Linked DNA regions of Homo sapiens. The protein of the gene in region 3 purifies or fractionates together with the protein of the main gene of each other region. This does not show direct contact. Each region holds a gene or a part of one and is shown on either strand. Other genes may lie near its edges.

The links.
Region 1: the proteins of RMP24 (region 3) and RPP38 purify together in Homo sapiens (co-immunoprecipitation; 3 studies listed by BioGRID and IntAct, with this or other methods). This does not show direct contact.
Region 2: the proteins of RMP24 (region 3) and RPP30 purify together in Homo sapiens (affinity purification with mass spectrometry; 2 studies listed by BioGRID and IntAct, with this or other methods). This does not show direct contact.
Region 4: the proteins of RMP24 (region 3) and RMP64 purify together in Homo sapiens (affinity purification with mass spectrometry; 2 studies listed by BioGRID and IntAct, with this or other methods). This does not show direct contact.

The regions. Positions count from the first base shown.
Region 1 is NC_000010.11:15,099,133-15,105,965, forward strand, and holds the end of RPP38 (ribonuclease P protein subunit p38), read left to right. Parts: intron 1-3,085; 5' UTR 3,086-3,204; intron 3,205-4,172; 5' UTR 4,173-4,182; coding exon 4,183-5,034; 3' UTR 5,035-5,125; downstream 5,126-6,833. UniProt on the Homo sapiens protein: Component of ribonuclease P, a ribonucleoprotein complex that generates mature tRNA molecules by cleaving their 5'-ends. Also a component of the MRP ribonuclease complex, which cleaves pre-rRNA sequences.
Region 2 is NC_000010.11:90,880,392-90,889,821, forward strand, and holds part of RPP30 (ribonuclease P protein subunit p30), read left to right. Parts: intron 1-5,420; coding exon 5,421-5,510; intron 5,511-9,430. UniProt on the Homo sapiens protein: Component of ribonuclease P, a ribonucleoprotein complex that generates mature tRNA molecules by cleaving their 5'-ends. Also a component of the MRP ribonuclease complex, which cleaves pre-rRNA sequences.
Region 3 is NC_000018.10:35,973,994-35,980,523, reverse strand, and holds the end of RMP24 (UPF0711 protein C18orf21), read right to left. Parts: intron 5,629-6,530; coding exon 5,429-5,628; intron 3,115-5,428; coding exon 2,924-3,114; intron 1,690-2,923; coding exon 1,518-1,689; 3' UTR 1,246-1,517; downstream 1-1,245.
Region 4 is NC_000003.12:113,000,444-113,009,873, forward strand, and holds the end of RMP64 (nucleolus and neural progenitor protein), read right to left. Parts: intron 7,988-9,430; coding exon 7,728-7,987; intron 5,588-7,727; coding exon of another isoform or gene 5,562-5,587; coding exon 5,093-5,561; 3' UTR 2,001-5,092; downstream 1-2,000. Other genes in the region: GTPBP8 (GTP-binding protein 8), read left to right, coding at 407-476. UniProt on the Homo sapiens protein: May play a role in cortex development as part of the Notch signaling pathway. Downstream of Notch may repress the expression of proneural genes and inhibit neuronal differentiation thereby maintaining neural progenitors.

The DNA.
Region 1 (6,833 bases), on a different chromosome or scaffold from region 3:
AGAAAGGAAGGGGCCTGCGGCTGAGGGTGGGAGTGGTATTCCAGGCAGAGGGACTAATGTGTATAAAGACTTGCAGGTGGGAAAATGCTGGCCTCATTAAATAGTATGTTGTTCGGTGTTGAGGACTTGTGCTTGGTGGGGCCTAAGGAGAAAGAGGGCCTAAGTGGGAGATTGAGCTGGAGTGTGGAGGGCCTTTTATGTCACATTAGAGTTTAGGCGGGGCATGGTAGCTCATGCCCTCAATCCCAGTACTTTTGGGGAGGCCGAGGCTACGGGATTGCCTGAGCCTAGGAGTTGAAGACCAGCCCAGGCAACAAAGCAAGACCTTGTCTCTATAGAATTTCTTTTTTTTTTTTTTTTAAGACGGAGTCTTACTCCATTGCCCAGGCTGGAGCACAGTGGTGCAATTACGGCTCATTGCAGCCTCCGCCTTCTGGGTTCAAGCAATTCCCCTACCTCAGCCACCCACCTAAGTAGCTGGGATTACAGGTGTGCACCAGCACTCCTGGCTAATTTTTGTATTTTTAGTAGAGACTGGGTTTCACCATATTTGCCAGGCTGGTCTCGAACTCCTGACCTCAAGTGATCTGTCCAGCTTGTCCTCCCAAAGTGCTGGGATTACAGGTGTGAGCCACCGTGCCCAGCCTATACAGAAAATTTAAAAATTAAAAAAATTTTCTGGGCTTGGTGGTATGCGCCTATAATCCCAGCTATTCAGCATGAGGCTGAGGTGGGAGGATTGCTTGAACCCAGAAGTTCAAGGCTGCAGTGAGCCATGATCGAACGACTGCACTACTGCCAGGTGACAGGGCAAGACTGTCTAGTAAAAAGAGTTTGCCCTTGATCTACAGGCAGCAGAGGCCTCTTGAGACAGCTCTAAAGGGCCCTCAGCAAAGCCTATTTTTCTCTCTTTCTCTAAAGCTATAAAATCTTATCAGTCAGTACTTTGTTTCTGGATTATATTGCGTGAGATTATGCTTATCCAGACTACTTGGCTCTCTTTATCGCCCCAGCAGATTCTGCAGGTGGGACAAGTTTATAGCCTGTTTTGTGATCCCTCTGGAGCATGATTTTAAGTATTTATTCTGTGGTGTTTGGATGTGGAGACATCATCTGACTTGCAGTTGGCAAGAGCTCTGCCCCATCCTATTTGTTTCACCCCCTGTCACTTATTTCCCTCTTCCTGACCACTTTGAACCTGATGCCAGCCCCTCACAGTCACTGCATTGCATCTGGATGAGCCACTTTTCTTCCTGATTTCCTGAGCTCTAGGGGAGCATAGAGATAATGGGGTCAGGGGACACAGTGTGGCCACCGTGAAGGAAGCAGCTTAGGCCCCAGAAGTCTCCAGGATTGCTGTACCGAGATGACCAGGGTGTGATCTCTCACCCTAAGGAGCTGAATTTGGCTTTTCTGTGGGAAAGTGTCTGGGAAGAATATCAGAGACCAATAGCGCTCAGGGGGCCCTTTCTCGGGGCTGTCCAGTGTGGAAACACCCTGTCCTACACCAGTGGTTCCTGATTCCGGCTCTGAATCAGATTCACGAGGGCAACTTTTTTTTTTTTTTTGATATGGAGTCTTGCTGTCGCCCAGGCTAGAATGCAGTGGCGCGATCTTGACTCACTACAACCTCCGTCTCCTGGATTCAAGAGATTCTCCTGCCTCAGCCTCCAAGTAGCTGGGATTACAGGCAGGCACCACCATGCCTGGCTAATTTTTTTGTATTTTTTAGTAGAGACGGGATTTCGCCATATTGGCCAGGCTGGTCTCGAACTCCTGACCTTATGATCCGCCCGCCTTGGGCTCCCAATGTGCTTTGGTTACTGGCGTGAGCCACTGCACCCGGCCTGGGGCAGCTTTTTATAAGCACAGATGCCCAGGCCTTATTATTGAAGATTCCAATTCAGTAGATCTGGGTTGAGGACCAAGCATCTGCATGTTTTAAGAAGCCACAGGTTATTTTTGAGGTGTAGCAAGGATTGAAAGAACAGAAAACTTGGATTTGGAAAACTAGTTGTGACTTTAGGCAGTGAGTCAGTTTCCTAATGCACACATTGGGGGATTCTATAGGAATGCTGTAAGAAGCAAATAATACATGGAGAGAGTGCTTTATACAGCGATACACTGCACAGACACACTTGCCTTCAACATCAGCTGCCAGCCTAGTAAGTGGTAGTATAAATGCAAAGGATATAACTTCCTTTAGTTTTGCCAGGTGGGTCCCTGTGATTCTAGCTGAGCCCCAGGAAGGAAGGGAAGAAAACTGAGGGAAGAGAAGGGAGTGTGTAGTTGCCTCTGGGAAGGATAAAAGGATATGCCCTCTGGACCAATAGTTTATAACATTTTCCCCATTAAGCATCCTTCTACTCATTTTTCCTCAATGGATTAGTATCTTTAAATTTCATTACATTTCCCTAGTCTTCATGGAATTGCCAGCCAGAGAAGTCAGCTCGGGGTCCCCCTAAAAAGGAGGACTGGCCGGGAGTGGTGGCTCGTTCCTGTAATCCCAGCACTCTGGGAAGCTGAGGTGGGTGAATCACCTGAGGTCAGGAGTTCGAGACCCGCCTGGCCAACATGGTGAACCCCATCTCTACTAAAAATACAAAAATTAGCCAGGCGTGGTGTTGGGCACCTATAATCCCAGCTACTCCGGAGGCTGTGGCAGGAGAATCGCTTGAATCTGGGAGGCAGAGGTTGCAATAAGCTGAGATCATGCCATTGCACTCCAGCCTAGGCAACAAGAGCAAAACTCCGTCTCAAAAAACAAAAAAAAGGGAGTGTATGCCTGCATATGTATCAAATGCTGTAGGAAGGATATTCAAGAAATTTAGGGCCCTGGGAGGTGGGGAGACTTACAAAAGTGGACGTGACAGTGTTATTTGAAGTTTTAATCATGAGATGACTGTTCAGTTCTTTAAAATATCACACCTGATTGGTTGTGAATGGCAGAGGCCACCAGAGTATTTGCAGATTGGGAGCTCTACGTGGGTGGACATCGGGTCTTGCTTACTGTGAGCCCCAGGACCTAGAACACCACTTGCATACTGGAGGTGCTCAGATCATTTTTTTTTTTTTTTTTTTGCAGACAGGGTCAGATGTGTTACTGGGCTGGAGTGTGGTGGCACAATCACGCTCACTGCATCCTTGACCTCCTGGGCTCAAGTGATCTTCCCACCTCAGCCTCCCAAGTAGCTGGGACTACAGGTACGCCTCACACTTAGCTAATTTATGTATTTTTTGTAGAGGGTTTCTCCATTTGCTCAGAGTGGTCTCGAACTCATGGGCTGAAGTGATCTGTCCACCACAGCCTCCCGAAATTCTGAGACTGAAGGCATGAGCCAGTGTGCCAGGCCTAGAATATTTGTTGAGTGAATGCATGGAAGCCCAACTAGATAGCATTTTGGAAAACAGTAACAAGTTAGAAGATTAATACCATACAGTCACTAGAAGGTTAATTATGAACAAGTAGAAACAGAATATTTTTAATAAATGAAATAGACAAATGGAATTGTACTATGATTGCAATAATTAAAACTTTCACATATTGCTTGTATAGGAATAAAGACAAAGTCATATAAAAAAATGGGGAAAATTAAACACTACTCACCCATAGTCCTGAGTATTTTAAAGAGCCTTCGTAGAGCATTCAAAATCGGGTAAGAAAAATGGGGAAAAATAAAATTACTTAATCTTTAAAAGGAAGACAAGCGTATGCTCACCTAATTGGACTTATATAATCAGGCTTGCTCTAGCTTATCCAGAATCAGAGTACAGGCCGGGCGCAGTGGCTCATGCCTGTAATCCCAGCACTTTGGGAGGCCGAGGTGGGTGGATCACCTGAGGTCAGGAGTTTGAGACCAGCCTGGGCAACATGGTGAAACCCTGTCTCTACTAAAAAAAAATAGAAACATTAGCTGGGCTTGGTGGCGGGCGCCTGTAATCCCAGCTACTCGGGAGGCTGAGGCAGGAGAATCGCTTGAACCCAGGAGGTGGAGGTTGCAGTGAGCTGAGATTGTGCCACTGCACTCCAGCCTGGGCAACAAGAGTGAAATTCTGTCTCAAAAAATAAATACATAAATAAATAAGAATCAGAGAGTACAGTCAAGATATTCTTAAGTCATGCAGTTGTCGCTAACATGAATTTTTTCTGTTGTCATTTTGCTTCTTGGAAGGATTTTCAAAATGGCTGCAGCTCCTCAAGCACCGGGGCGGGGATCTCTCCGTAAGACGAGACCTCTGGTTGTGAAGACGTCGTTGAACAACCCATACATCATCCGCTGGAGCGCTCTGGAGAGCGAGGATATGCACTTCATCCTACAGACGCTTGAGGACAGGCTTAAAGCTATTGGACTTCAGAAGATTGAAGATAAGAAGAAAAAGAACAAAACACCTTTTCTGAAAAAAGAAAGCAGAGAGAAATGCAGCATTGCTGTTGATATTAGTGAGAATCTGAAGGAGAAGAAAACAGATGCTAAGCAGCAAGTGTCAGGGTGGACGCCTGCACACGTCAGGAAGCAGCTTGCCATTGGCGTTAACGAAGTTACCAGAGCCCTGGAAAGGAGGGAACTGCTGTTAGTTCTGGTGTGTAAATCAGTCAAGCCTGCCATGATCACCTCACACTTGATTCAGTTAAGCCTAAGCAGAAGTGTCCCTGCCTGTCAGGTCCCCCGGCTCAGTGAGAGAATCGCCCCCGTCATTGGCTTAAAATGTGTTCTAGCCTTGGCGTTCAAAAAGAACACCACTGACTTTGTGGACGAAGTAAGAGCCATCATCCCCAGAGTCCCCAGTTTAAGTGTACCATGGCTTCAAGACAGAATTGAAGATTCTGGGGAAAATTTAGAGACTGAACCTCTGGAAAGCCAAGACAGAGAGCTTTTGGACACTTCATTTGAAGATCTGTCAAAACCTAAGAGAAAGCTTGCTGACGGTCGGCAGGCTTCTGTAACATTACAACCCCTTAAAATAAAGAAACTGATTCCAAACCCTAATAAGATAAGGAAACCACCCAAAAGTAAAAAAGCTACTCCAAAGTAATCTTGCATAAACTTGTCATGTCATACAGTTTGTGAAAGGACACCTTGTAAAGAAGCCTTGAAACTAATAAAATGAGTTATACTTACATAGATTCATAGGGTCCTGTTTGGTAATATTCAAATGTGTAAGACTCTTTGTAACTATGGCACAGATATACTAAGTGCAGGAAATATTCAAAATTAGGAATAGCCAAACAGACATTTATTGAAACTAGTGTTCATGCGTGTGTAAATTGACTTTTTCTTTTTCTTTTTTTTTTTTTTGAGACAGTTTCACTCTTGTTGTCCAGGCTGGAGTGCAATGGTGCGGTCTCAGCTCACTGCAACCTCCTCCTCACGGGTTCAAGCAATTCTCCTGCCTCAGCTTCCCAAGTATCTGGGACTACAGGTGCGCACCACCATGCCTAGCTAAGTTTTGTATTTTTAGTAGACACGGGGTTTTACCATGTTGGCCAGGATGGTTTCCGTCTCTTGACCTCGTGATTTGCCCACGTCAGCCTCCCAAAGTGCTAGGATTACAGCTGCGAGCCACCGTGCCTGGCCTTTTTTTTTTTTTTTTTGAGACAGAGTTTCGTTCTGTCGCCAAGGCAGGAGTGCAGCGGCGCAATCTCGGCTCACTGCACCCTCCACCACCCAGATTCAACGATTCTCCTGTCTCAGCCGCCTGAGTAGCTGGGATTGCAGGTGCCCACCACCACACCCAGCTCATTTTTTTGTATTTTTAGTAGAGATGGGGTTTCACCATGTTGGTCAGGCTGGTCTCGAACTGACCTCGTGATCCACCTGCCTTGTCCTCCCAAAGTGCTGAGATGACAGACGTGAGCAGCCGCGTCCAGCCTAAATTGACTTTTTCAAAGGCTGGTAGAGTGCCTGTGAGCAAGAATATCTGTGTCATACAACGCTTAGCATTTTCCTATCAAACCTGGAAAATGTACCACAGTAAATGTTCTAGTCAGTCAGGTAGATGGAACTGAATTGGGGAAGCATTATCAGTTTTAAAGGAAAGATCCCAAATGCCAAGCAATCCATTGTCTTCAGAAGCAACACATCATTTTTCACTTCATGTCAATTTGACTTTTAGGAAGGAATAGACATGAGCTTGGGAGAAAGACTTAATATTTAGAGAAAAAATATCAAAAATATAGAAAAAGTCAGATAAGGTTATTTTGACTGGGTACAGTTCACCCCCATTACGTGATTCACTTACCTCCTTGGAAATCTAACGTATAAAAGGTATGATGGTAATTGGATGAAATGTGGCCAAAAGATTAAAAAAACTGAGGAGCTTGGGTTCTCAGAGGTGGGTGTGTGACAAGAGTCCTTCAGGTTAGGAGATGGAGCATAACCGATGCTCTGTTAGAGTGTCTGCTGTTTACAGTGTGTATGGAAAAGTTACTTTCTGTAATTTAGAAGGAAGGTATTTACTAAAGATTTTTCCAGCTGAAAGTCTGGCTGACTCATGGATTATGCCATCTCTCGATTTAAATTTTACTTAGTGCCATCTTGGCCAAAAAGAAGAAAAAAAGATACCTTATTGAATAGAACATTTTCATTATAGACAAAGTACAGTACAATGCAGTTTTAAATCTACAAGAAACTATCCATTGCATTTCAATTTAGTTTTAATAGCTACTTCATAAGCAAGCAGTTTAATTCTCGAAAATGTTAATTAGTAATCTGCTTCAATTATGGAGGCAAATGTAGTTATTATTCTATTTAAAAGTGGTTAATAATTTGATAACAAATTATGTAAATGACTCTTTAAAGGAGCAGTGTAACTGTCACCGTGAGGTAAGCTCA
Region 2 (9,430 bases), on a different chromosome or scaffold from region 3:
GAGTGCCTACTCTTTTTGTTGTTGTTGTTACTTCCTTTAAAAAATGCAATTGTAGGCCGGGCACAGTGGCTTATGCCTGTAATCCTAGCACTTTGGGAGGCCGAGGCAGGTGGATCACTTGAGGTCAGGAGTTCAAGACCAGCCTGGCCAATATGGTGAAACCCCATCCCTACTAAAAATACAAAAATTATCCAGGCATGGTGGCACGCTCGCAGCTACTCGGGAGGCTGAGGCACGAGAATTGCTTGAACCCAGGAGGCAGAGGTTACAGTGAGCTGAGACTGTGCCACTGCACTCCAGCCTGGGCAACAGAGTAAGACTGTGTCTCAAAAAAATTTTTTTTAAATGCAATTATAGATATTCTCAAGAATTTTGTTTTAGTTAAAGGGGTAAGTAGAAGCAAGTGATTTTTAGTCATAAAAGACACCTGTAGAACTTTTTAAAATCAGGCACATTCAGCCCTCACCACTGGAGACTTTGTTCCAGTAGATTTGGGGTTGATTCTGGGTATCTGTTTTTTCATGTTCTGTAAGAAAGTATAATTCAGTGCCAAAACCACTAGTGTTTAATATAAGGAAGACCATGGGCATTTCCAAGTTTGTTACAAAACCAACAGCAACTTAGTTTGCTTATTAAATAATAGCAACTCAGTTGTGATTTAGAATAAAAGTTGCAGATGTACCAAGTATTTTGTTGTACATTTGATTTCTGGATTAATTTTGAAGATCATGCAACTTACATTTCCATATCCCTTTACTGATGATTAGAGAAACAAAAGAAGGTATACATTTGTAAAACCTTTCAAAAACGTTTACATATTTATTTCCTTTAACTTTTACGACAATCCCGTAGGATAATTGGGACAGATATTTATTACTATCCTCATTCTATAATGGAGAAAACTGAGATTCAGGCTGAGTGATTTGCTCTAAATCTCCCAGCAAGTTTGTTCTAAAGATAGGACTTTGGGTTTTAGACTATGTTGTAATTTCATATAATAGTTTTACTTGTTTATCTTACTGTTTTTCTCAGACTTAAAGTTTGAATTTGGTGAACACATGCTTGATGATAGTAGATGGGCCTGTCAAAAATACTTTGGAAGATGGAAGAAAGCACAAAGTATTGACTTTACACATATACTCAAAAAGTTAAATGAGAACGCAGTTTTAAAAATGGGAACATCTTCCTCTTCTCTATCCAAATATTACCCATTCCTTAAGATTAAATTGAAATTAGAGTTCTCCTTGTTTTCTATAGGAAATCAATTTTAAAAGACATCTTTCTTTTAAAGCTTTTATAGGTATATCATGGTTTGGAATCAGGTCAAATGCAAGCAGTTTGTGTCTTAAGTTACATTCTACAAGTGATTTTATTTATTTTGTTTGTAAGTTGATTATCTAGAATTCTAACAGGTATCTATCTCTGTAGGTATGGTATTCTAAAACTAAGTTAGGTCTCCAAGATGAGTCATCAAGCATACACACACAGACAGACACATGTTTATGTCAATAGTAGTATAAAATCGAACCATCTTAAATAGCATCATTTCCATGGGACATAATATACCATTATATTTTCTACTCAGAGTATCCGGAAGATGTCTCATAGAAACTCCCTCTCCATAGCTACTTAAGGAGATAAGGCAGAGATTAAAGATTTTGAGGGGGTCCATTGGTTAGGGCTCCTTGGGATGGGGGACAGCTGTGGAATATGACACAGAGAGAGAGTTGCATAGAAGCTTCTGGAGCTTCTGGACCAATTAATTATTCCCATTTAGGATTTAAAGCAGCTGAGCAGGTTGAGGAGAATTCAGGTTATTTAGTCCAGTGGTCTCTAACCTGCTTTGATTGTGCACCCTATCAGTTTAAAAAATTTTTGAGCCTGCTTCCAAATATATATATGTTTCTTATAAATTATTCGCATCTCTCATTATACCAGTGTGCCTTATAAAAACTACATACACACAAAACAGATCTTAAGATAGTGAATTAAAAATTAAATGGGCCAGGCATGGTGGCTCACGCCTGTAATCCTAGCACTTTGGGAGGCCGAGGCAGGCAGATCACGAGAGGCCATCCTGGCTAACACGGTGAAACCCCGACTCCACTAAAAATTCAAAAAATTAGCCAGGCATGGTGGCGGGCACCTGTAGTCCCAGCTACTCAGGAGGCTGAGGCAGGAGAATGGTGTGAACCCGGGAGACGGAGCTTGCAGTGAGCCAAGATTGCACCACAGCACTGCAACCTGGATGACAGAGCAAGACTCCGTCTCAAAGAAAAAAGTAAATGGAGGCTGGATCCAGTGCCTTGTGCCTGTAATTCCAGGACTTTGGGAGGCCGAGGCAGGATGACCACTTGAGGCCAGGAGTTCAAGACCAGCCTGGGCAACATAGTGAGACCCTGTCTCTATTTTTAAAAAATAAAAGTAAATGGAAATAAAAGTTTTATTTTCTTCCTGCTCCTGAAATTCATGCCTTTCCTTTGCAGAGGACTGTTGTAGTGTCTTGAGGAAGGGAGTGTCCTGGTGTTACTTGCAGTATGGTCTGGCTCCACTGGCTTTAGAATTACCTGGGATATTTATTAAAATGCAGATCATTAGGCCATACTTAATGAATCAATGGAGGTAGGGCCTGGTTGTCTCCATTTTTGATACATTCTTTAGGGGAGTTTTGTACACATTAAAGTTGAGTGCCACTGTTGATGGGCATCTCTCTTTTTCCTTGGTAAGCCTGATTGTCTCTTCACAATTTATCAAACTGATACCTTTGAAAGGGATTCAGGGAGGAATATGAACCCCTACAGTCCTATTCCTTTTGTGCCATAGAGGCAAAGATGTGTATATATGTGTGCATTTTTATGGGAATACGTTTTCTTTAAATTGTCATAGGAGTCTCTGGCCAAAAAAAAAAAAAAAAATTGGTATGGACAACTGATGTGAATTATTATGTAACCTACTAGTTTTCAGAGAAAACCATTATAAGATTCTTAACCCCAAGGCTCTATTGGGCATAATTTAATCTTCTAAAATGATATAGAAAGCGTTTCATTGTAGTGTGAACATTAACTTTTATTTTGTGGTTATCTAAAAGTATTGATTGAACATTTTGGTTAATAGAAAACTAAATAACAAAATAATTCAGTTTGGGGCATTCTAAGGTTGAAGTGTCAGAGGGAGCCATGTGGAGCTGTCCCTTGTAACTAAAAGTTTATTATAATGCATGTATTTGCACGTACTTAAACCAACATAGAGCCATTGTTTAATTGGCCACTCTTATGTAGGAAAAGGGAAGAAAGGAACAATGTGTAAGTAAAAAGTAACCTAATTTAGCTTTATTCTGGGGAGAATGTTTAACAGGCTTTTAAAGAATTAATCACCTTTTTAAACTGAAGAAATAATTTACATTCACAATGATTAATTTAAACAGTACAAAGGTACTGAAAAGTATGCCTTACTTCCACCTAAAATTCCTTCCCCATTTTTTCCAGAAGCAACCACTAGTAATAGTTTTTGTGTATCTTTTTAGAAATATTATTTACCTCGTCTTTTTTTCCTTTGTTCTCCCCTTTCTCCCTTCCTCTTTCCTTCCTACCTAACACCATGCTTCTTTTACCTTACAGTTTCTTAGAGGTTGTTCCATAATATCCATTAGAGATGTACATCATTTCCTTTAATGAGTTGGCATATTCCATCATATAAAGGGATCATAATTGAAGTAAAATTGAGGGATGTTTAATTGTGTCTAGTCTTTCATGATTGGTATTGCAATGACTGTCATTGTACTAATGTCCCCTGAGCCTTTGTAGGGTATATAGCTACGTAATATATTTTTAGAGTCTCTGCACTTATAGAGACTTCTCTATAGGAGACTCCACTTATACCTACTACATACCTATAAGTAGAATTGTTGGTGTGTGCATTTAAAATTTTGGTAGCCATTGCTAAAATGCTTTTCAAGACCTTATACTGATTTAAAGACCTTTTGAGTGCCTGTTCATTCATTCTCATGTCAGCAAGGTAGTACCAAACTTTTTTATCTTTGCCAGTATGATCGATAAAAAATGGTGAACAGAGCTGAATTTGTTTCAGCTATCATTCAGAGCTTTTCTTCATCCACTCTTATTAAATTTTCAGTGACTCTTTTATGAGTTGGACAGCTGTGGCAGTTGGGATGGGGCAGATTCTTTATGAGCCAAGTATTTCTGCCAAAACAACATTGCTTCCCAGGCTTACTAAGTTACTATGACTGTCTTAAAGCTAGCCAGCCTCTGATCTCTACTTCCTAAAGCCCTGGGGTTGGAGTAGGAGTGACTGAAGTGGGGATTCTGAAGAAAAAGGGCAAGATACGGTATTCCTGTCATTGCCGAAGGTTGGCACCAATCCTATAGGTCATTTTCTCCACTCTTCCTTACTCTGCCCTTTCCCCTGGTACATGCCACTGATGTTGTTTGTCAGCGTAGCCATCCTGGAAGTTTGAATTTGTCTGTCAAGCCTGTACACACTAGCATTGTCAGTAAGCTTTGTTTTTAATGTAATACATAACAGCCAAATATTTTTATCACTATAAATCAAATAATGGCAAAATCAGAGCCAGGTATGTTTCTTCCAGCAGTGTCTTCTGGCTTGCCCTCTACACTAGTAACCTTTTCCCAGCTTTATTTTTCTTCCCTGATTTTCCATTTATCCTGATTTTCTTATCTGTTTATTTTATCTTGTATGTGGTTTTCATAAACAGTTTCAAATCTCTTTGAGAAGAAAATGCAGAGTATTACTCAACAAGTCATAGCAAAAATTAAAACAACAGAAAGGGAAATTAAAAGTTGAGAAAATGCATTCATTATCATTTGCTTTGTAGTAGCTCTGCTTTAACTATTTATGTAGATTCCTTCTATTAGTATTTGAACAAATGTCATGAGGTGCTGTGTTCATATTTCTTTAGCTACTCAGTAGACTTGATAGGAGCCACAGCCCTGGGACAATTCTTGGCACAGAGTTGCTCAATAAATAGTGTGTGGGATAAATGGACTATGCATACATTCCATTTGGCTTATTTTTTCCTTGGGTTTTAGAATAGTCAGTTTCTTCTTTCTGGGACAGTCTGAAGTAACCTTCCAGAAACTGAGCCTCGCTCTGCAACCCATCCTTATGTAGAAGACCATATGAGTTAGAGAGTCTCCAGGCCCTATCTTTTGAGAAAGTCTGTGGACATATTCCGCTTTTGCTGGATTACAGTTAAACCATTTAAACCAAACCTAAAAGAGTAGCAAAACAGTTGACTTTGTAAAAGGTCAGATGTATTTCAACACAGAACCATCAAAACACCTATGGAGTGAACCATACTTTATATCGAGTTTGACCCTATCTCCCATTCTTACTTGTGCCAATTTTCCTTTTGGCCTTACCTATTTTTTTCTTCTTTACAGATTGCTTGCACACATTTAGATGTGGATTTAGTCTGCATAACTGTAACAGAGAAACTACCATTTTACTTCAAAAGACCTCCTATTAATGTGGTAAGTGTACTTTCCATTCTGTATTTGAATCTTAGAAACTTACATTAGCAAATTGGAAAAGAAGCAGAAGAAATCAGTGTTCTTAGAAGGAAAAACAAAGGCTAGGGAATAGGAGGCAGTTTTAGAAAAGAGAATTTTCGTTTTGAAAGCTGAACAAAGGGAGAAAGAAAGCTTAAAATTAAAAATATCCAGTTAATTATTAAGATGTTTTTAAAAGGCCATAGAACCCAAAATTTATAAAGGATATTTCTTAAGAGGATAGCTAATAATCATGGGTACTTATAACCTGAACATCAATTATTAAGGGAACAGAGCAGTCAAAAAAGAAGAGGAAGGGAAAAAATAAAAAGCAGAGGATCCTTGAGGCACCAGGAAGCTAAAGAGAGTCAAGAGGGAACAGGGCATGGCATCACATAGACGTGGTCTATGCAAAATTAAAATCTGTGTTGAAGCATGCTTATTCACAAAGAGCCCAGAGTTACTTTTATATGAACCTAATAGGATGGCCATGTGTTCAGAAAACTTTTTTGTTTCTCCCTCTGCTATAGAATTTTTCTCATTCCCCTTCTACATAGTTTTCTCTTGTTTTCCCATACCCTTCATCTTCTATCTGTCCATTCCTTCTTCTGTCTTAATTTCCTCCCATTTCCATCATAAGGTAATATTATTTCACACCAGTAACTATTTTAGTAGCAAAAGGTCAGCACAGCTGTTAACTATTTGCTTTGCCAGTCAGATCCTAGGAGGAGTTCAGATGCTATTTTAGAGTAGTGGCTTCCAAAACCCTAGTCTCCTGTTCTCAAAAACTGGTATCCAAGGAGAAAAAAAAGAGTTTAGCAAATACAGTCAAAATTACATATCCAATCCTGTCAGAATCAGAAGATTAATTTTTTTTAAGTTTTTCAAAGGATAATTCCCTTGCTCTTTTGCCTCTGTAGAATCATAACTTTCTCAATTTTAATTCTCTTTGGTGCTAAGGAATTGGCTTGAGAATTAGAGGGAGACAGTAAGAGGAGAAAATGGAAAATTAGTATGTGAAAATTCAGTGTGGCAAAAATTATTAGTAGTAGTAGTAGTAGTAGTAGAGACAGGGTGTCACTCTATTGCCCAAGCTAGAGTGCAGTGGCATGATCATAGCTCACTGCAGCCTCAACTTCCTGGGATCAAGTGATCCTCCTACCTCAGCCTCCTGAGCAATTGGGACTACAGGTGCATGCCACCACACCTGGCTAATTTTTTTATGTTTTGTAAAGTTGAGGTCTCACCATGTTTCCCAGGCTGGTCTCAAACTCCTGGGCTCAAGCAATCCTCCCACCTCAGCCTCCCAAAGTGCTCAGCTTACAGGCATGAGCCACCATGCCTGACCCACCCAATGGGGAAAAGTTTAAGTTAGCTTATGTTCTACCCCTAAAAATATGCTACTCAAACTAAAAATATATCATCATATATTTCAAGGGAAAAACATAAAAGCTCTTGTTGGGTAAATTTTTTTTTTTTTTTTGAGACGGAGTCTTGCTGTCACCCAGGCTGGAGTACAGTGGCACGATCTCGGCTCACTTCCACCTCCACCTCCCTGGTTCAAGCAATTCTCCTGCCCCAGCCTCCTGAGTAGCTGGGATTACAGGTGCACACCACCATGTCCGGCTAATTTTTGTATTTCTTTTTAGTAGAGATGGGGTTTTACCATGTTGGCCAGGCTGGTCTCAAATTCCTGACCTTGTGATCCGCCCGCCTCAGCCTCGCCAAATGCTGGGATTACAGGCGTGAGCCACCACACCCGGCCTAGGGTAAATATTGACAGTACTAGTGAACATAACAATATTGGCTGAGCTCAAATCATTGGTTCCTTGTGTTATTGCCAGTACTTATAAATAAATAAGTAAACAGTGAAAAACCACTGAATCACCACATTTTCGAGTTGGAAATCTATGTTGTGCAACAGTTCATTTGTCAAATGTGGGGAAATGAAAAACTACAAGAAGTCATTCAGTTCTGTAGTCACACAGGGTTAGGAAAGTTCTGATTGGTTGTCTGTCAAGATCTCTGATGTGCCCCAGGTACCTATGATAAAAGCCACAAATTAATACAGTACTCAAGGTTATGGCAGTCTTGTTGGCCTCACATATTGTTTCTCTCCAGAGGTAGCAATCTCTGTCTTTAGAAGTTTGCCTAACCTTTTTACCAGCCTCAAACTGCCAATACAGTTTCTGTGGAAGTAGCACCCCCAGAGTTGGGCACTATAGCTACTCAGCAAATTGCTAGTGAACTTGCAACTTTTTCACCTTTTTCTTCATCTTAATGAACTAGGAAGGTCATTTTCTAGATGGCTTTGCCTGAATAAGCCCACATACGATACTGTGACCTTTGATGGGAGGAGCTAGCATGTGATGTTAAGGCCAAGTCCATGGAATGGACAGCAATGCACAACAGATAATTCCTCATGTCTCACGACAGTGGTAAGATTCCCAGTGGCTGCTTTGGTGAGAGCTTTTAATTGGGGTTCTTAGGAACTTGTATTATTATTTAAACCAGAGTGTGAGCTCCTAGAGAACACCGGCTGTCATGGTCCTTTTTTAAGTACTCCACTATCTTGCGTATAATGAGTCCTCCTTACAGTTTGTTGAGTCAATAAGTACATGTTGAACTTAGCATATCAGGGTACAGCATAGGGGACCTGGCCAAATTCTGCTCGTTGTTAGTCACCAGCTGGATGTCCACATTCATCAGGAAGTATATGCCGTGAGGGAAGTGGGGCAGTGGGGCAACATGAGGAGGACAGTGGCACTCAAGACAGTTGACACCAGGACACCCCACCCCCTGATTCCATTGGGAAGTTCAGGAAAGCTCCTTTCGTTTGATGGGCATTTTTCGCTTAATTCCTACATTTTTCAATTTAAGAATTCTGAAAAGTAAAAAATTCTGTCAAGTGAGAGGGATATGCAGTTTAACATGGTGTCTGCTTTAAAAAAAATCTGGTGTGAACATTTTGCATATGTTGTTTAATAAAAACTAGATGATGGAGTGGAAAGAAAGGCTGCACAAGATTATTTTTAGTCTTCATCTAGTAGAAGAGTAGGCTGCACTGTGAATTGGTCAGGAAGCAGAAGAGTCCCTGTTAATTTATTCACCTATTTTTTATTAAAGAGAGAAAGTTGGAAACATACAGGTGTCTAGCTTGTTGTTCAGAGTAAATAATAGTTGTGGCATAGGTATGTATGTATTATTTGTAACATAATATCCAGTCTGGCTGTGGAGCTGTTTGTCTACATAAAGTATGGAAATGTATACATTGTGAGAGCACAGTCTTGGTCCTTGCATGTTCCCTTGGCTTTGAGTGTAAACTTGTTTTTGGCCTTGAGAAGTTCATAGATTGGCTTTAAAAGGATCACTTTATAAGGATTACTTTTTTTTTTTTTTTTTTTTTTGAGACAGAGTCTCGCTCTGTCCACCCACGCTGGAGTGCAGTGGTGTGATCTCGGCTCACTGCAGCCTCCGCCTCCTCAGTTCAAGCAATTCTCCTGTCTCAGCCTCCCAAGTAGCTGGGATTACAGACATCCGCCACCACAGCTGGCTAATTTTTTTTTTATTTTTAATAGAGTTGGGGTTTCATCATGTTGGCCAGGCTGGTTTTGAACTCCTGACCTCAAGTGATCCACCCGCCTCGGCCAGGATACTTTAAATTAAGCACAGATCTTAATTTTGTCACGATGTGGGCCCTTTTCTTTGGTTGTGGTGAAAAGCAGTATTAAGAAAGGTAAATCATTCATCTTTTACCAATAGGCCAGATGCCATGTGAGAATCATCAGCTTGGAAGGTTGGGATTGTGAAGGAGGGCCCAGGAGCTCTATAGCATACCAAACACTCCATTTGTGTACTTTGCAGCTCTTTTCCCTTTTGTCATCTTCACTGTATGCTTAGGG
Region 3 (6,530 bases):
TGTGGCGAGAACATTAAAAAACCCTCTTTTGGCTGGGCACTGTGGCTCACACCTGTAATCGTAGCACTTTGGGAGGTTGAGTTAGGAGGATTGCTTGAAGCCAGGAATTCAAGACAAGCCTGGGCAACAAAGTAAGATCCTGCCTCTACAAAAAATAAAAAAAATTATGGCTTCTTATAGTGGGAAATGAAAAAAATTAAAATAAAATATTAGCCAGGTGCAGTGGTGTGTGTCTGTAGTTCCAGCTATTCTGGAGGCTGAGGCAACAGGATCACTTGAGCCCAGGAGTTCAAGGCTACAGTGATCTATAATCATGCTATAGCACTCCAGCCCAGATGACAGAGCAAGACTCTGTCTCTTAAAAAAAAAAAAAAAAAAAAAAAAAAGGCCAAAAATCCTCTTTCAGCTATTTTGAAATATACATTAACTAGAGTCATCATGCTGTACAAGAGATCATAGAACTTATTCCTCTTAATTGAAATTTCCCCTCCCCCAACCACAGCCTCCAGTAATCACTATTATATCCTCTACTTCTATGAGCTCTACTTTTTTAGATCCCATGTAAATAATACAGTATTTGTCTCTCTGTGTCTGGCTTATTTCACTTAGCATAATGTCCGCTAGGTTCATCCATGTTATCATAACTGACAGAATTTCTTGCTTTTTAAAGGCTGAATAGTATTCCATTGTGTATATACACATTTACAAAAATCCATCCTTTGACAAGCATTTCTGTTGTTTTCATATCTTGGTTATTGTGAATAATCCTACAATGAAACACTGTAGGGCAGACATCTCTTTGACATACTGATTTCAATTCCTTTGGATATATATGCAGATATGGGATCATATGGTAATTCTACCTTTAGTTTTTTGAGGAACCTCCATACTGTTTTCCAAAGTTGCTGTACTAATTTATAGTATCACCAACAGTATGTTTCCTTTTCTAAGAAAGAAAATTTTAGTTTCCTATTGAGTGATCTATAATCAGGAATGTTCCAGATATTTACTTTTGCAATCAAAATAGGAATAAGGTTCAGGTTTTACTAAGATAGTTATGCAGATAATTGTGAGAAAATAAGGACCCACTTGATCCTATTCCTGAATTATCAACAATGCTATAGACACATGGAAGAAACCCTTGAGTGAATAGACCCTCTCATAAAGATCTCAATTTCCTTTTGAAAGACAATAACATAAATAAAAACTGCTGACTAAAGGAAGAAAAAACAGTAATGCCACTACTCAATGTATATATCTATCTTTATATACATACACATATATATCTATAGATATGTATCTACAAGGAACTTTCATATATTTTTTGATCCTCACAGCTGTCCTATGAGGTAGGCAGGTTTCAGGTATTCACACTAATGAGGTATTTTCCCCATAAACACTGAAGGATGCCAAGAAAAGTTTGCATTCAGATCTAGTTTCCATGTATTCAAAAAATGAATAAGAGTTTAAAAAGTTGTTTTACCAACTTTAGTTTCAGAATTGACATCAGGCATTTCTTATTTTAAAAGTCCACCCTTCAGAGAAGATAAGAAATTTCTGAAGTCCACCTTTGGAATCTTTTGGGATTCATTCTGACTAAGTAACATTTTTAGTTGAGAGAAGTGTTTCTTTGTTTTGCTGGTGTTCTTTGAGGAGCAAGTAGATACTGACTGTCCAGATGTAGGTGTTCTGAAAAGAAACAAAACCACACTTAGTTATACCAACAAATGACAATCATTTTCTACTCTTTTGTATTATGGCCATATACATGCACTGGCTATCCTCGGTGTATTATCATTTGACAAATCCCTGTTCAGTTAGATTTCCTCAGGAATTTCTGACAGAGAAAAGGGCAAGAACAAATGTTTAGGGCAAGAAAGTGTATTATGAATGGTTCAGTATTTTTTTTTTTGGAGACGGAGTCTCGCTCTGTCGCCCAGGCTGGAGTGCAGTGGCGCCATCTCAGCTCACTGCAACCTCTGCCTCCCAGGTTCAAGCAGTTCTCCCGCCTCAGCCTCCCAAATAGCTGGGACTACAGGCGCACGCCGCTACGCCTGGCTAATCTTTTGTATTTTAGTAGAGATGGGATTTCACCGTGTTGCACAGGCTGGTCTTGAACTCCTGAGCCGCCCACCTCAGCCTCCCAAAGTGCTGGGATTACAGGTGTGAGCCACCATGCCCGGCCGTGAATGGTTCAGTTTTGTTGGCACATAGGATGATTTAAGGCAAAGAAAGACAGGCAGACAGACTGGTGCCAGATAGGGCTGGAAAGCCATGCTAGAGCATTTATCCATATGCTACACAGTGATGCTTCTAATCAGAGCTATGCTCCAGAAAGATGATCACACTAAAAGAGTTTGATCCTAGAAGCAGGGAGACCCATGAGGAAAATCACTGCAGTAGTCCTGACAAATGGTGCATAAGGACCTGAACCAGAATATAGCAGCACTATGGAGAAAAAGGAGCAAAAAGATGAAAACAGGGAAGTAGGATATATAGAAATCGGTGACAAGGACCAAGGGAATAGGGATTTTTGAATGTACCTGTCATTTTAGGTCAAAATGTCCAGAAAGGTGTGTTCATTCACAGAATAAGGAACTCAGGAGGATGGACAGGTTTGAGTGGTTAGCTGTGGGGCAATGATGAACTAAGTTTTGAACATGTAGGGGACTGAAGTGGTTATATTTAGCAGGCAGCTGGAAATAGGCACAGGAGATGTTGGAAGTAGAGTAACATACCTAGAAGTCAAATGCATTGAAATGAGCATTGAAGATATGGGAGTATGTGACATTAGAAAAGGGTATGGAGGAAAAATGGCCAAGTCCTGAAATGCATGGCATATTTAGGGAGTATATATTAAACACAGGAAATTAGAAGAAAACACTTAACACTGGCAATTCAAAAACTTCATGGATTAAGATACCTGAAAACCGATGCTGGGCTCTTGCCTTTCGAGCCAGACATGTCATGATTTGGGTTTGCAGTCCTTCTCTCTGGTGTCTTCAGGCTGAGTTTACTTGTAGGAGTGGCAGGATTGCTCTTCAATGTTGACACAAAGCTTCTACTTTTACCATGATGTTTCACTGTTCTGTTGCATGTTTTACAAGTGATCAACTACCATAAAAATAAGAAATATCAGTCCCGTCATTTATCTTATAATTTAACCCCATAAACCACAGGTTCATTGAATTCTTAAATGTCAGGGACTACACCAGATACTATAGGGGTAAGTAAAATAGAGGCTGTCCTTGGGGAACTTGCAATCTAGTAGCGAGAATCAGACAAGACATTTTTTTTTTTTTGAGACGGAGTCTTGCTCTGTCCCCAGGCTGGAGTGCAGTGGCGTGATCTCAGCTCACTGCAACCTCTGCCTCCTGGGTTCAAGTGATCCTCCTGCCTCAGCCTCCCATGTAGCTGAGACCAGGCGCCTTCCACTGTGCCTGGCTAATTCTGTATTTTTAGTAGGCAGGGTTTCGCCATGTTGGCCAGCCTGGTCTTGAACTCCTGACCTCAGGCGATCCACCCGCCTCGGCCTCCCAAAATGCTGGGATTACAGGCTTGAGTCACTGTGCCCAGCCGACAAATTTTAAATGAGAAAATGTTCAATAAAAATGAATGGCTAAACATTTGTATTTAATTTAAAATAGGTTTTCAAAGATAATGAACTCTACTTTTTAAATATAAAACCATGTTTGGTGGGAATTTGGGAAGAGATGGGAGATAATACTCTTTAACATCTGGAGGAATGTTCTTTGTAACAGCAGTAAGCATTTAATATTTTTTTGCAGATGAACTTCAAGCCTCTTCCCAAAAACAACATGGCACAGTATCACTGGAAATTTAAGTAGCCCCTTCAAATCCTTAGCAATTTTGTAAACATAGGTCTAAAGTAACTTATACAACCAAATGAGTTGTTATACTCTCACACCTCTCCACTCCCATCATTAGCTCTAGAGGTTGTCTTTCTTTTCAAGATTCATTTCTCAAGAAATGGTCCATTTTCTAGCTAATTTCCTTTCTTCTACATATCTAATTGACTGTGCACAGGACTCAGCCCATGCCTCGGCAAATTAATACAAACTAGTTTAAGTGAGAAGTAGTTTGATGTTCATGAGCAGATGAAAATGCCAATGGAAGATCTGCATCTATCAAAGGTCTATGTTGCTTTACACTTTTTGGAAGGAGGCTGTATACAGGTTAAAATAAATCAGCCGGGCGTGGTGGTGGGCACCTGTAGTCCCAGCTACTCAGGAGGCTGAGGCAGGAGAATGGCGTGAACCCAGGAGGTGGGGCTTGCAGTGAACCGAGATCACGCCACTACACTCCAGCCTGGGCGACAGAGGGAGACTCCGTCTCAAAAAAAAAAAAAAAAAAAAAAAAAAAAATCAGAAAAACAAATACCTCTAGCACCTTTCTAGCTGACTTCTGATTAAAATACATTAGAATGTAAGCTTCATGAGGGCAAAACACTGCAAGATAGTGAGGCAGCATTTGCTGTCTTCCCATTTAAGAACATTTTCCAAATATGTGGCAGTAATGATTTTTGAAAAATACAATTCTCCAAGAACTAAGAAACCGAATTCCATACTCACTTCAATATTCTATCTCTTCTTTCTTTCCCTTTAACCATTCAATTTTATGACAAAGCAAAATGCACCTACCTGACCAACACTGGTAAACTCCTAAATATGACAATTTTCAATCCAAGTAATTGCTAATTATAGTCTTAGGCCAGACATAAGCTGTCATAATGTCCAGTGCCCGGCACAGTGATAGACAATAAGCAGGCACTTGAACAGTTGATAAATGTTAACATAAAATATGCAGGGATATAAAGTGTATTTGCTACTGGCCTCCATATAGTAAACCGTACGTAATCTGATTTTGGTTGTTTTATTCCATCTTATATCCCCAATATTAAATGTTGCTTGGCATATGATAGACCCTCAATAAAATGTTGAAAGAACAAAAGATGCATTCACCTTTGTTGGGCATACCTGTAAATCCACTCTGACATGGAGTGGGAGGACAGCTGAAGAAGTGACATGATACCTACATACATAACATAGTACTATCTGAAGCAAAGGAGCATTAACTGAAAAAATAATGTAGTGGTAACTGCAATTTAGGTGGAGCCATAACGGTCAGTTCAAGAAATCCGCACATTTGTGAAAAATAATGCTCAACAATGGGATCTCAAAACAATTGAGAGCTCACCATGTTTGGTTTAGGTAATCATGAAAAATAAAAGTAAGCTGTCCTTATAATGAAACACTAATCATTAGAGAAGTGTTTATGTATATATTTTGATAATCCAAATATACTACTATAAATCTCTGAGTTATACTGAGGCTGATTCTTAAACTGATTTTAAGTGAAAGAAAAGAAAATTCTAGTTTACTCATACATACTGGAACTGAAATCTTACCAATACACTTTTGGAGTCTTTGAACTTTTTCACCATTTTTGCTTCTTTAAAACTGAGTGTATAGTTTCTCGCTTCTCGATTAAGAAGTTTCTGTATTTTGGGTGTCAACCTGGCTTTGGGTTTGAGACGCACTCGAGAGTTATCCAGAACCAACAGCTGGAAACAGTATGGACACGTTTCTTCAAAAGTGCTCTTATCATCTAAAATTATACAAATGAAACTCACAATTCAGCAAATCAGAATATTTTGTTACCTCAAACTGTCAACATTTATAAAAAGTATATTGAAATTTAATATAAGCAGATACACATTAAGTAAACTCAAAATATGAAAATTTACAAAAAGATAAATTGGCAGTAATTTACCTTGCAAAATACTACAATTCCATCCATTCACTCCTTTCAGCAACAGATAGGCAAATCTCCAACCTATGCTAGCAAATCCTGTAGGCTTTAAAATATATCCTAAATCTAGCCACTTCTCATTACTTGCTACTAAGTTTTAAAAGGCTGTTATGTTTCACCAATTTTACCAATGCATTTACCACAAAATAACAAATTGCACTGCGATTTTGTTTCTTTTTTTAAATAATTAGCACAATGAATAGTATCTACTGTTGAGCACTGTGCTAAGTGCCAGGGATGCAACAGCACTTATAAAGCTAAAGACCACACTTAAACTTAGCTCTGCCAAATGTGAAACTCATTCATATTCACTAAGTGACAATTAAGAATGCCAGGCACTGTTCTAAGTGCTGGAGACACAGCAGTGAACAAAGGACAATTCACCGAGGCATACAATAAATATAACAACGTCAAATGTTAAGTGCTGGGAATAAAAAAGTAAGATAGGAGGGGGGAATAGAAGTATTGATGGAGTTACTGTAATTTTAAATAGGTGGCTAGGGAAAGCTTCATTGAGTGATATTATAGAGACCAGAGGGAAATGGAGGATTCACATGAAAGCAGATATGTGAGGCAAGAATCCCAGGCAGAGTGAAGAGTACCTGCAAAGGCCCTGAAACAGAAAAGCAAGGAGACCTAGTGTGACTGGAGTTGCGTGAAGGAAAGAGTACGTCAGAGAGGTATGCAGGTCTATGACA
Region 4 (9,430 bases), on a different chromosome or scaffold from region 3:
GACAGACGGACGCACAGATGGATATAGGAAGACAGATAGATAAATAATATGTACAATAATGGTGATGGTAATTTTTTTAAAACCTAAAAAGTCTAACAAGGTAATTGAATATTTATTACAAAAAGAACAAACTAAAGAGATCAAGACTTATTCTGGAAAACAAAGCAAAATAGAAGATATAGTGAAATTTTTGGAATCATGAAGGAAATGGATCAGATAATATTGATCATCAGATTTTAGAATACTACAAGACGCGGCTGGGGGAAGAGAAGAAAGCTAGAACACATTAAAAGATGTTCTGCTTTCATATATGAAATCATAAGAATTTGTAAATTTTTTTAAGTTGATGAATTCAGATGTTATATCTGAGGAAAGGAAGAAAATTATTTCTCTTTTCTTTTCACAGTGCTGTGACCTTTTCTGGAATCCACCTGTTGAGATGCTTTATAGCCAGTGTAACAGGAAGTCTTGACTAATGGTTCCCGGTTTAGCTGAAGATTCAAAAAAAAAAAAAAAAGCTTTATGCTAACTGGAGTTAAATACCTAGAAGAATTTCAACATTGTTTTAAATGTTGTGCATCTGTAACTTCAGGAGGATCACTTGAGCTTTAAAACCTGTGCCTTCTCGAAACAAGAATTTGTGCCTGAGGTGAAAAAAGTTTGTAAGTTATTGAATTATGGTGTTCATTAGAACAGCTACTAGCTGATTCCCCTATTTTAACAAACTGACAAGAGCACATCCATAAAATGAAAACCTGTTACAACTATGTACAGAAGGGTTTGACGTTTTATTGGGCTTTTGTCTTTTAAAGAATATGTCTACTATGGGTATTTTTTTTTTAAATGTTAAAATGGGCTAGGTAAAAGGGGGCTGCTTTTCTGTTAAGCATCGATAGGTAAGTTGATGGATAAAAGTTACTATGTAAGCCTATTTTTTTGAGTCCTTATTTGAATATTGAAAACATTCTTGATAAAATGTGTTAGTCCATGTTGGAAACAACCGAAAGAACAGAATTCAAGTTCTAGTTCTGATGTTTATTATATATGTTGGATCTTGGGCAACTTACTTGATTTCTCGGAAATTCATTTGTTACTGTAAACGTGAAAGCTATTAAGATTCAAATGAATGGTTTTACAGCAGGTAACATGTGAGAAGACAGCTACATATTTGTAAAGCCAAACCAACAAAGAAATATAGCAAAATTCACAGGTAGATTTATTACAAGAAATGTCCTTTCATGGGGGAAGTAACATTTTCACTAGTGAAAAAGCAAAAAACAAAAATAGCTTTAAGTGAGAAAACTAATTTGTAAAGGGCAAGAGAAAAAAGCTGATGGGACAGTTTAGACTGCTACATTTAAGATTCAGAATGGAAAAATAAAGCCTTTGAACTAAAGTTAATAGAGAAGATTTTTGTGAAGGTGCCACTAACCTATTCATGTAAGTGGCTTAGGTTTTCAAAGTGAAGCTTAATATTAAAAGGTTATAGCTGTATTGCTGGATAACAAATTAAAGCTATAAACCAACTTCGTGGCTTTTCTTTAGAAAACAATCTGAATATATTGTCAGTTTTATAGTTGACAGAATTGGTCTAATCTAAGCAGGAATGTTTTCAGCCAAAAAAAAGATTTTTTAATATAGACATTCATAAAATATATAGTAACAAAAGAATTATCTTAGAAGTCATCTTTTTGTCTGCCAGTGTTACTTCACTGCTTTGATTTATCCTTGGTTCTCCTATAAGCAGAGCCTGAGCCAAAAGCTTACATATGTAAATTTGGGAAGTGATCCCAGGGAACAGTGGCAAAATGAAACAAGACAGACAAGCCTATTAACAACATATTCATTGAGTTAGCCAAAACATAGGCACTAGTGCTAGATCTTGAGGGAACTTGTGACAAGTCCTAGGAAATATGTGTTGTATAGTGACCAGGTCTATGCAACCTACCCCCAAAGGCTGAGAGTGCTGAGATGCCAAAGAAAGAGGCCAACAAATCCAGTTTGTCAGAAAGAAACATTTAATAGGGACTTATGCACAGAAGCCATGTCTCAGGCAGTGATCCCCACAGTTACCCCCCGACCCAGGGCTTATATGCCATAGAGAAAAGGGGGTACATGAAGGAACATGTGAGACACTGAAGTCACCTCCTCAGGGAAAGGCAAGAATGCTGTTTACAACTTAGCCTATAACTTGCTTAAGGCCAGGATTTACAGTGTGTGTGTGTGTGTGTGTTCTTTTAATAGATAAAAGTAGAAATCTTAGAGGGCATTCCAGGAACTGGTTATCAGAAGTCAACATGGTAGATTAGCATCCAAGATGGAAGTTACTTTAGCCTCATACTGTGCCTGTGAATTTCTTTGAGGAGGGGATGGGGTGGCCCCACACCTCTTCCAGGTTGTACATACCCAAGTGCTAGGCAGTTCCTGTAGCTGGTGAGAAGCCCAGGGGCAGGAAGTGAGACATCCCCAGAGCAAGAGGCAAGGTTCAGCCCTGCTTGAAACTGGTTGCCACAGCAGTGACTTTAGTATGAAGGCCAAGAGGATTGGAAGTGACACACAGGAGGTCTCAAACACTGCTCTTATAAATGGCCTGTGTGTCCTAATGCCATCAGAAGTGATAAAGTTGGTACTAGGATGTGGGTAATCCCAGCACTTTGGGAGACCAAAGTGGGTGGATCCCTTGAGTCCAGGAGTTTGAGACCAGCCTAAGCAACATGGTGAAACCCTATCTCTACACAAAGTTTTTAAAAAATTAGCCAGGGCATGGTGGTGCCTATAGTGTCAGCTACTCAGGCGGCTGAGGTGGGAGAATAGCTTGAGCCCAGGAGGTGGAGGGTGCAGTGAACTGAGATCATACCACTGTGCTCCAGCCTGGGCAACAGCACAAGACTCTGTCTCAAAAAATAATAATAATAATAATTCACTACGATGACCCTGACAATAGTTTCTAATCTCATTTACTAGGTAAGTTACAGTTTGGTATACTTTAGATTGCATTTTTTTAAATGTTAAATATTTGGATTTATTTGGAAAAAGTAACTGATACAGAATACTGAATTCCTTATAAACATACAAATTGTCATTTTGTGGACACATGTGAAGCTTTTTTGCCATTTTCCCAGAATAGTAAAGGGCAGAAGATGGGAAAATGAGAGGAGATGAAGATACTCCAAAAGAACATGAATGAATTTGGAAACAAATGCTAGACTGGCAGCCCAGTCCATGCTATATTGTCCTTAACTCACTGAACCACCCTGGTTTTTCCAATGAAAGATAAGCTCCAAAGTTTATTTCAGCTATAAAAGTTTCATTCTTGAAAAAATTCCACTTCAAATCCAGAAACCTAAGCCTGAGGAAACTGACTAGCTCAGTGAAGCCACAAGTAGGAGAAGCAAGACTGAACCTTAAATCTCCTAATTCCCAGGGAGTTTTTTTCTGAATCAGCTAAATGAAGTATTAAAAGAGGCTACTTAGGGGACTGGGTGCATGAATATAGACAACTCTCAGCAAATAAGCCCTATGGTCCACAAAGCTATACACCAGTTCTCTTACTAATTTACCTTCTATTTCCCAATAGGTAAAGGATATTCATTGAACACAAGGACACTTAGAAGTTAATGGCCATTTCTAGACTTGTCTAGAATGAAATCTCCTTGGTATTGTCTGTATTTTAAGGCACTAAATGGATACTACCACTTGGTAGAAAGCCAAAAGGAATATGAAAACTGACTACAGATTAAGAATTAAACCAGTTTACTTAAGGCTTCAGGAGAGAAGCTAAAGTAGTGTTTATATAACTGGATTTGGGGGCCACCTGGATCAAAATCACTTGGGCTCCATGTTAAAAATGCAGGTTTCTGGCCCCTGTTTATCAGTCTCTGGGAAAGGGCTAATCTGCATCTTTTAGCAACCCACCAGGTGATTCTCAAAAAGTCTAAAGTTTGAGAACCACTGGTAGAGATAACTGAGAAAATGGAGAAGGCAGACAGGGAAAGAACAAAGCCAAATAAAGAATGGAAGGGAAATAACTTCTGTTATGATAGGGTGGCTGAGGAAAAGAAGGATGCGGTACATACTAAGGTACTACTTTCTTTTTCTTTAAATCTCTATGTAACAAAAGTTAAGGGCACTAGAGAAGCTTAATAACCTAATTCTAGTAAAGTTAGAACATTGGAAAGATACCTACCTCAAACTTCACATCATTATTTGAAAATACTCAAGATGTACTCCCCTCAGAGCAACAGTACGAGCAACATCCCCTATCAGATGACAGCATCAACACCAAATTATAAATGTTCTAGCCTCATTCCTGGGTCTACTTTGTATCTCCTAACCTCATTTTTTCATTTTACTTTCTCATCTACCTGTTATCCTATTATATTTCATATGTAACCATAAACCACCTTATTGCCTTTTTGTAAAAAGGTTTATTTGGAATCAATCACTGGTACCCAAATAAATAAAATTAAAACGTTTTGGAGAACTCCAAACTCACTTTAATATGAGATAAGCCAAGCAAATGAAGAGAAATAATGGTTGTAACCAGTCCCTGGTAATACAAGCAGTGGCAAACCTTGTTGATCAATTCCAACATATAAACAAGAAAACATAAATGTCAGGAGCTACAAACTTTAGTATTCAGAGGCGGACCTATGTATAATGGAGCCAATAAGACCAAATTGACCTTTCAGGTGTTTCCTTGCTATCTCCCACCCCCGCTCCTCATTTACCTCAAGACACAATGGTTTTTGCAAACGATTATTAAATTGCCTAGTAAGTCATAAAATTATTCAGTTTTTCAGAGACTTACTAGCCTCACTCAAGGAATTACATCTGCTTCTCAAGGGTAGGCTGTGGCAGATTTTTCATATTAACACCTGACATGTAGTTGAAGCCAAAAAAGAAATACTTGTTGATGAAATGACACAATGCTACTTTAAATGTAGACTGAACTGAAATGAACTCCTGTGCAATGCTGCACTAAAGCAGCTCCTCTGTGAGTCCAGGTGGTACTTCCAGATCTTAGCAGTTCTACTTAGAACACTGAACTAGCCTTGTTAATCACTTAAAAGTCTCACATATGAACGAACATCTAAACTCCCATTAAAGCAAAAATATCATCAATGTCATCTGTCTCCTTAATGGTTCCTGATGTACTGTTTTTATTTATTTGCATCACCGTCCACGAATCAGTTTCATTTTCATGGATGCCTCTAAGATTTTCATGAATCATTTTCTCCTTAGTTTGTATGACAGGCATTGAAACTCCACTATTCAAGAGCTGCTTACTGTTAGGGTAGAGATCAGTTCTATGCACAGTACAGTGTGAGAGTCTCCACTTAGCACTGGTATCTGTAGCACTCTTCCGAGTCCCTTGAGAGAACTGCTGAATTTCCCTTAAAAGAGTCGACTGCAACTTTCTCTGTGGTTTCCTTTGTCTCCGTAAAAATTTATTCTGTGATCTTCTCTGTCTCAGATGATGCTTTGAAGTTTTGATACCTGAGCCACGAAGAAGGTGGTTGCAAATAGACGTTTTTATGCACTCTAGTTTCTTTGGCAAACTTTAAAAGACAGAGAGAGGAAAAATCTGGGCTTAAGATGAGAAAAACATTCTCAAGCACTTTTAATTTACCAACTGAAAAGAAAAATACACAACTTATCTACAAGTCCTATGCCTGTGTACAATCCCAGAACCACATCGAAAAATTTCACCCCAAGTCTGTTTTTTGAGAGCACAAATGCCCTCTGATTGAAGTGTAGACGAATGTGTCCCCATTTTGCTTTCAAACTCTCAAAAGTACAGCCGCCTAGCAATTAGCTGAATGGCGAGATACCCTATACTTTAGTGTCAGAGCTTTTCCCTCATAACTGCTAATCTGTTCATAATGTAATGAGTGGACATGAGGAAACATCACAAATGAAAAAATCTGCCAGTACGTATTAATCCGAATCTGGATAATCAGCTTCATGCTGTGGCAGGAAATGAACAAGGAAAAAGGAATAAAGGCTAAGAGGGGTTTATAAAACAATATGAAGACAGGGCTTCTGGCCCAGATACACAGACAGCCTTAAGCTACCCTAATTATGATTCATATGTCATCTTCAAGTTTGGAAATTCAGAAATCAAACAGCTGATCATTTTAGGTGTTTTGCTTCCACACACGGTACACTGCCACAAGGTTCATCAGTGCCTTGCTGAATTGTTTCACTGTTTGTGATAGATTTTAAAAGACGGGCATGGATATAAAACTTTGAGGAAGCCCATTATAATAAAGTAAATCATGATCTTTGCTTCCATACCATTTTCTTATCTCACTATAAGCAGTGGCTTTTAAGTGGGGAGAAGGTGGGTGTACTTCAGAGTTGAAAGGAAAACAGAGGGCCTGAACTGAGTTCCACATCTAACCCCTTGAGCAAAATCCTCCATTTACCCATCTATGAAATGGGAATAATACTGTCTACCTCACAATGTTATTATGGACATTAAATAAATTATAAAGTTTACTACAAATATATTAATGAAACAGCAAAACAGGGCAATCTATGAAGGAGCACTATATCTGGGGGAGTACTGAGTAATGGTTTAACCAATAAACACCAGTTTGCTACCCTTCTCATTAACTTTTAGTTGTTACCTCTGCCTCATCTACCCTTGATTTTAAACCCAATTTTAAACAGAATGCTTCTCTCCATCTCAGGCTGCGTCTCCAGCCATAGGATACATCACTTTTAGATTATTACAGACCTTTAGAGGAGCCATCTCAATGTAAAAACCCCTCAAGCACTTTATCCCTCAGGAATATTCAACCACTTTCCCCATAGCTTTTAATCAAAATGTGTTACAAAACCCTCACTGTATACTTTTTTTTTTCTAAAACAGGAATATATTTTATGCAAATTTTAAAAGAAAATTTAACAAATTTTCAATACGTGGTTCATCCCCAGGAATGAACTTTAAATCCCTGAATAGCTCTAAACTATGGATAAGAAATTATGGGGCATGCACAGGATATTTGTTAAAGAATACAATAAAAAACAGGTCAGAATAATTGCCTCTGTGAAGGTGGAATAGGCTCTTAATACATATTTGTGTCTGAAATCATTACCGTTAAGCCCTGAAGTGTCTAATGTCTAAATTCATGTAATACTTCATGCAATACTGGTTCACAAGCAAAGATAAGCACCCTTAAACAGTTGTGAATATAAAAATCACAGAAAAGAAATATAGATAGAGTCCAGCTGCTACAAACAGTAGCAAGTAGCAACAGTACAACACCCCAGCAGTCTTGTGTGGGCCTCATGGAAGGCAGGCACCTTCTGCTTCTGCTCTCATGCCCTTATCCCACTGCACTGCACTGAAGCTGTCTGCAGAAGGGCTGCCTTTCCCAGAAGACCCTGAGCTCCCTGAAGACCAAGTCACGTCTTTATGCAGTTGTATCCTCAGGCTCAGCACACTAGACACTCTTAATGGTTCCTGAATGAGCTGATGGAAATGATGAAGAGCATAACGGGGACTGAAGTCCAATTAACTTGTTTATCTTCTTCCTCCAATGATACAGCTTTGCTCTTACAATAAAAGCAGCAAATGCAATTGCAGTTTGAGTACATCCCAATTTAGCCCCGCTGCGGCTGCTGGACATCACATTTTAAAGAAAAGTGACCTGAATACTTTTACTCATAACAACAACAGAAAAAGTAAAGTAACATAATTTTTGCAATATACCTACCTAGTACCTTGAGCTTCCAGATGTTTAAGCCGGTTGCTTTTAAGAAGTTTGTTACCCAGAAAAATGGCCTGAGCCTTGAGTTTTTTGCTCCTGCACCATACAACTGCCATCTGGATTTCTTCAGAAAGTTGTGTGAAGGACTCAGCCTCTCGGAATCTTTGCACAAAACTTTTGGCATGAGGAGTTCCTATCACTTTCTGAGAAGAATACTTGGTTGTCTTTAGTCTGGATTGAGAACATTTAAAATCAAAACTGGTCTCCTGAAACGTGGAAAGATGAGAAAAATATATTGGACATGTTACTGACTTGTAATTATATGACAACAAGGAAAGCTAGCTCACAATCAAAATTTAAAAATTAGAATTATCAGTCCCTAAATGCTTGAAGTGATGGATACCCCATTTACCCTGTGGTTATTATGCACTATATGCTTATAACAAAATACGTACCCCATAAATATATATACCTGCTACGTACCCACAAAACCTAAAAATTAAAAAAAAAAAATCAGTCTGTAAGGAAATTTTTTTGCTCACTAAGCTTTCCTTATGTCTTTAAAAACTGAATTTTTCTCCACTGCTCCAAATACAAGTTGTTTTGTTCCCCCTCTGTACCAGGACAGGTCCCATCTGCAGCTGAATTAGATTGACATAGGAAAGTTAACATAAATATCCTAACACACATATCTCACATACACAATAAAAAAACCCCACATGATTAAATACTGGTCAAAGCCTAATTGCAGAGGGTTGGGGGATCACTGAAAGGCCCCTCTTCGCTACACCACCAGATTATCACGACTTGTTTTTCACTTATTTCCGTATCCTGGGCAAACCTCCTCAATTTAGAAATGTTTCTGAAAACAGGGAAGATATGGGGCCCTGCAGAGTGCCCAGCAGAATAAGCCCATTAATCAGTTAATGCCTGCTGAATATCTATTAAAAATGCTCAATTGAGCAACACTTCCAATTCTACTTCAACCATCTTCTGACAAGGCACCTTTACTTCTTCAACCCCTTCTTTCTATATCAAGTCACATTTGGATTTTACTAACGTTTACTATTTCTTTATGAAAATATGCTGCCTACGAGATGATCTGCTCTTTCATTCAAAGCTTACCTTCTTCCAAATTTCTTACACTCAAAAGGAACTTTAAAAAAAAGTAGAAAATATAAAAGTAATGACCCAGGTCAATAGTTTATGTTTGGTGATCAATAGAAGTAGTTTGCTTTAAAGCTAAGCAAGTTAGTGCTATTTGCTAAAAATATAGTAGCAGTTAGTTTTGAGTAAGAGGGATGCTGACCCACCAACTTCAAAGCCAGCTCACCTACAAACAGGTGCACAGGCTGCAGAAGTTTCAAGGTTCACAAAGCACCATAGTTCTTGAGATACAGTTGAAAAACTGTTCTGGGGACTGGTGAATAGTAAAGAAGAAAGACTATGAAACCATACTGCCTGCATTCAAATCGCAGCTCTACCATTTATTCACTATGTGGCCTGGCAGTTTCTTGGCCTTTCTATGCCTCAGTTTCCTCATCTGAAATATGAAAACAGTAATAAGCATGCCCACCTCACAGAGCTTTTGTGATATAATTACATGACTTCATGCATATAAAAGCACTTAGAACAATGCCTGGCACAGAAAGTATTACTCCTCACTCTGAATTCATAAATTGGACAGAACATCAATGGAAGCTGGAGTC